Linked DNA regions of Homo sapiens: region 1 is linked to region 2. Evidence: fine-mapped expression QTL. A gene starts in region 2. The other region holds a variant in brackets. All regions are shown on one strand. Distances are between the middles of the regions.

The links.
Region 1: its variant is fine-mapped to the expression of RIGI in whole blood (TOPMed, PIP above 0.99).

The regions. Positions count from the first base shown.
Region 1 is chr9:32,454,447-32,457,367 of GRCh38, forward strand. It overlaps ACO1 (aconitase 1), which reads left to right. Exons shown (of 21, transcript NM_002197.3): 21 at 1-323. It overlaps RIGI (RNA sensor RIG-I), which reads right to left. Exons shown (of 18, transcript NM_014314.4): 18 at 856-2,921. The coding sequence ends at 2,676. Among named protein-coding and RNA genes, the nearest start is that of RIGI, 70 kb to the right of the region's middle. The variant G/A (reference allele first, on the strand shown) is at 1,573.
Region 2 is chr9:32,524,806-32,527,726 of GRCh38, forward strand. RIGI (RNA sensor RIG-I) reads right to left here and starts at 1,391. Exons shown (of 18, transcript NM_014314.4): 1 at 1,256-1,391. The coding sequence starts at 1,361. RefSeq lists an enhancer at 1,292-1,541.

The sequences.
Region 1 (2,921 bases), 70 kb before region 2:
GACCACAGAGATAACAAGGTGGTAGTTGTGTAACAGGTTGTGTCTGAACCACAGGAGCTTCAAAACATACACGGCTGGACACCCTGCCAGGATGCTCTAATGGGGCTGGGCATGTGTCCATGAAAAAGACTCCCCAGTTGTTTCTAAAATGTGGCCTTTGTTCTAGAAATGCAATGACCAGCATTTGGGAGTCAGTCAAAAGATCCACTTCCTAAAAGCCTACCTGCTCATTTCTTTCATTCAATACATATTAACCAAGTGCCTACTTTGTTTGAGTCCATGCCTGGCAATGACATTATTCCATTAAAAGTCAAACAAGGAAATGCTAAGTTCTCCTTATTTATTTTCACTTCAGTCTGCCTGCCTCAGTTGGCTGAATAGGGCTATTCACCTTCATCCAAATTGAATCATTTACATACTTAAAAGAACTTTTCTTGGCCAGGCATGGTGACTCACGCCTGTAATCCCAACACTGTGGGAGGCCGAGGCAAGTGGATCACTTGAGGTCAGGAGTTCAAGACCAGCCTGGCCAACATGGTGAAACCCCGACTCTACTAAAAATAAAAAAATTTAGCCGGGTGTGGTGGTGGGTGCCTGTACCCAGCTATGTGGGAGGCTGAGGCAGGAGAATCACTTGAACCTAGAAGGCAGAGGTTGCAGTGAGCCGAGATCACACCACTACACTCCAACCTGGGCAACAGAGTGAGACTCCATCTCAGAAAAAAAAATAATAATAATAACTTTTATCTTATTAAATCTATTTCTAGTAGATGTTTTACACATCCTATTGGAGTTCTTAAACAATAGTGTATTAGTCTGTTTTCACACTGCTATAAAGAACTGCCTGAGACTGGGTCATTTATAAAGAAAAGAGGCTTAATAGATTCACAGTTCCACATGGCTGAGGAGGCCTCAGGAAACTTACAATCATGGCAGAAGGGGAAGCAGGCAAGTCTTACATGGCAGCAGATGAGAGAGAGAGTGTGTGTAAAGGAGGAATTGTCAAACACTTATAAAACCATCAGATCTCATGAGAACTAACTCACTATCCCAAGAACAGCATGGGGACAACTGCCCCCGTGATCCAATCACCTCCCGTCAGGTCCCTCCCTTGACACATGGGGATTATAATTCAAGATGAGATTTGGGTGGGGACATATAGCCAAACCATATCAAATAGCAATTAAAAAAAATCACATAAGAAAAGACACTCTTAATAAAATACAAATAGAAAATGAAAAAAAACCAACTCATAAACTTGGTTTAAATAATCCATTTGTATTGGGTCTTAGTAAGAATACTACTACTAGTAACTATTATCAAGCAACTACTGTGTCATGTACTTTTCACACATTCTTTTAATTAAAAACTCTCCACTAACCCTTACAGTTCAGTATTATCCTTGTTTTACAGATGAAGAAAAGCCAAAGAGAAGTTATATAACTGGCAAGTTTCTCTGGCTCCCCGCCTGCACCACTGCTCACCAGATTGCATGAAGAGGGAGGCAGCTGTAACACCTCATCCCGTTGATCTCCAGGGAACTCAGATACTTGTTTCCACGTCCAGGAAACC[G/A]CAAACTAAGCTCTTTGAAGCATCAGCAAACCTTGCTAAGTGACACGTGAATGCCATTTGGATACATATTCTAATCTTTCAAGTAGAAAGGACAGTCAGACTGCCTCATCTGTAACATCCAAGGGATCTGAGAACAGACATTCAGTCCAGGTGTTGAACATCAACATCATTATAGGAAAATGGTCAAAGAGAACAATGGCACACGTTAAGAGAACATATTAATAGGGCAAGATGTATAGTAAACTAAGTTTTCAAGAAGTATTTTATCATTTTTATGCTCTCTACTAAAAGCTGACCACTGTAGAGTGGATACACATTGCTACATACAGCAACTCTACAGTGGACAGCTTTTAGTAGTAAGCATAAAAATGGCTTTATGTTCTCATGTTCTCTGTGTAGCCATACCACACGTTGCTACACCAGGAACATGAGTACATATAACCATTACATATACATACCTGTATGTATGTATATTAGTTACATATACATATGTACAGTATATACATGTATATATATTGAACCCTTGGAAGGGATCAGCAAAGAGGAGGACTCAATAAAAAAAGACTAGAATAGAACTAGAAGAGAGAGAAGCCCAGGGAGAGCTTCAAGAAGAGTGCTCAACAGGGCCAAATGCGCAGAGGTCAAATAGAAGGTTAAGAAGTGCCCAGTGGATTTGGCAACCAGAGTCACTGGTAACCTTCAAAAGAACAATTTCAGTAGATTGTTAAGGGCAAAAGCCAGTTTACAGTAGGTTAAGGAGACAAAGGGAGATAAAAATTCCCAACATTCCATTCATTCATCTATCCCAGTGTGTACAGAGTGATTACTGTGTGTTTGTTGGCAGTTGACTCTAAAAAGAAGGCTAGAAATGAGGCTTTTTAATTTTTCCCAAGTACTATGAGCTCTGTTGGCCTACAAAATACTCAGTGCTGTGATTCACTCATTTGTGCTTTGCATATATAATATAGTACAAACTGCTAAAGATATTTTTAAAAAATATATTTTCACAGGGGTACAAGCGATCCATGATTATACCCACTATGTTTGTTTCTTCTCCACTCAAAGTTACTCATTCCCTGTAGCTGAAGATTGAGGACCTGATATCATTTGGACATTTCTGCTGGATCAAATGGTATCTTCTCAAAATGAAAGTCCTTCCACTTCGAGTACAGTGTCTGAACTCCAGTTGCAATATCCTCCACCACAAAACTTTCAATTTTTATAACTGGAATCTCAAATGTCTTGTACTTCACATGGATTCCCCAGTCATGGCTGCAGTTCTGTCGGGCACAGAATATCTTTGCTCTTTTTTCAAAACTTGAAAACTGCTTTGGCTTGGGATGTGGTCT
Region 2 (2,921 bases):
TTGGCCAAGCTGGTCTCGAACTCCTGACCTTGTGATCCACCCGCCTAGGCCTCCCAAAGTGCTGGCTGCAGGGAGCCGAAGGCCCTTGGGATGTGACCAACTCAGCATTCCGCTGGAGGCTATATGATCAAACAGCAAACTGTTTATCATGAATGCAGCACCTGGGCAAACTCACACTGCCTTGCCACCAAATGGTTTGCTGAGCGCCTCACTCCCTGGCGCCAGGCTCCTTGAAATTATTTATTGAGAAATCTAGCACCTATTGTTCAAAGAATGCAGTCTTGCAAGCCTGCTGTGAATCAAGCAGCCAGCCAACAAGCACCTCCCCTTCTCGCTATCTCTTTTGCCTAATAAGAAGGGCTGTGTAAAGCTCAGGGCCCTTGTCCACTAGAGGCAAGGTGCCCCCTGACCCCTTCTTCCAGATATACTCTTTTGTCTCTTGTCTTTTATTCCCGCGTTCGCCCCTCTTTGTTCAGTCCCCTAGGTCCGTGCGGGTTACATAGTGGCACCCCGAACAGCAACAGCATCGGGTGCTCTACAGCTGGGATTACAGCGTGAGGGACCACGCCCGGCCTCATCGATATCTTTTAAGTACCACCTCCTTTCACCTCTTTCCCAGAAGCCTCTGCTCATCTCCAGCACAAAGTAATTCGATACAAATTTACAAAATGGTCATTACCCAGGATCACCTGTCTCCGAAGTTAGATGGAAACACCTGTATTAAAGCCTAAAGCTATTCGGTCTGGAAAAGTCCGGCTCCTCTCCAGCTTCCACTTCTTTAGGCGTGCAAATAAGATTCGGCAGAGTAAGCATCAACTTCCTTTAAGCTCAGACCGCACTTTGTGCTCAGTACTGTAATTATCTGCCCTTTGTGTCCCATCCCTTGGACTGTAATGTATACTAAGGAAGAGCCCTTATCTTATTTCTCAATCTCTGTCAGTACCCAGCCAAGCACACAGTAGACTTTAATATTAGTGAAAATAAATGAAACAAAATTTCTTCCCCAGCTTTGAACCTAAATAGATGAGCACCCTTAAGCAAGTCACTTCACCTCGCTGGAACTCAGTTTCCCCACCTAGGCCTCCGAGGGCTCCTCAAACTCTGGCAACCTCTAGCCTAAAATGCTGCGGAGATCTTACCACAAACCTGGGGAGTCTGGCAGGCTCTCTGCATTGATTAAAAGAAGGGAACGAAGCAAGAGAAAAACAAGTCCTCAATTGTTTTCCGCCGAGAAGGCGCCGCTGGAGACACTCACCCTCCCTAAACCAGGGGGCCATGTAGCTCAGGATGTAGGTAGGGTCCAGGGTCTTCCGGATATAATCCTGGAAGGCTTGCAGGCTGCGTCGCTGCTCGGTGGTCATGCCGGCCTCTGCTTGCAGCTAGCTACGTTCCCCGCAGGCTGTGCCTCACTAGCTTTAAAGCCGGGTAGGAGGAGGGCGTGGCGAGCGGGGAAAGCAGGGATTTTCCGAGGAAATGAGGCCGGACGCGAGGCGGAGCTGCATAGGAACTTTAATAACTAAAGGGAAAATCGAAAGTGCAACTAGCGGCGGGCGGGGTTCGCGGAGGCTGTTTTGCCTCGGGCTAGTTTCGTTTCCCTCCGCACCGAGGAAGCCCGGGAACGGAGAGGACCCCTAGGAATTGCTTTTATTTTTATGATCTTATATTTTGTTTTGCTTTTATAGCGCTAACGTTTAGACACAGTAAAATGCACACAATCTGAGTGTGCAATTCGATGAGTTTTGTAAAGTGTACACCTGTGTACCCAGTTCTCCCACGTCGGCTGGGTGCCAGGGTAAGTCTATGTTTAGCTTTATAGGAAACCGCCACCTGTTGTCCAAAATGACTGATTACATCCAGTTTACATTCCCACCCGCAGTAGGAGAGCTCCAGTAGATAGACACATTGGTCAGCCTTTCTTTTTTTTTTTTAATTTTAACTTCCATCTTGGTCGGTGTGAAATGGTATATTATTGTGGTTTTAATTTTAATTTCCCATATAATTAATGGTGGGCACATTTGCATGTGCTTACTGGGTCATTCATATATCTTTTGTGAAGCATCTGCTCCAATCTTTTGCCTGACTTTGGAGTTTTTTGGTTTATGGATTTACAGGAGTTATTTATTCAGGATACAAAATTGTTAAATATATGTATTCGAAATATCTTCTTCCAGTCTGTGGCTTACCATTTCATTTTCTTAAAGGTGTCTTTTGAGGAGCAGACACTTATATTGATGCAATTTTCAGGTTTTTCTTCTGTTTGTTGTTTTTTGTGTCCTCTTTAATAAATCTTTGCCTACCCCAAGGTCATGAAAATATTGTTTCCTTTTAGATTTATATTTTTAGCCTTTACTTCTGGGTCTATTACTATCTCAAAATAATTTTGTTGTGGCGTGAGATGGGGGGTCCAGGTTCACTTTTTCCATATTTCTAATTGTTTCAGCACCGTTTGTTGAAAACTTTTCCTTTTGGCATTGGATAGCCTTGGGACCTTTGTAAAAAAACCAAGTCCATTGAATGTATATGTGTCTATTTCTGACTCTTGTTATATTCTACTTCCTACTACTTTGACAATACCATTGTCTCTAGGTTACTTTAGATTTCAACTAAGTCTCAAAATCAAGTACTACTAAGTTCTCCAAATTTGTTTTTCACTGTGAAGATATTAGCTATTTGAGATTCTTTGCATTCCTTTTTTTTTTTTTTTTTTAATTTCTTTTTTGAGACAAGGTCTCACTCTGTCTCCCAGGCTGGAGTGCAGTGGTGCAAACAGGGGTCACTGCAACCTTGAATCCCTGTGCATTTCCATATGAAATAAGAATCAACTTGTCAATTACCCCTTCCTTCCCCCAAAAAAAGTTTATGGGGATTTTGATCAAGATTGCATTGAACCTACAGATAAACTTGGGGAGAAGTGACATCTT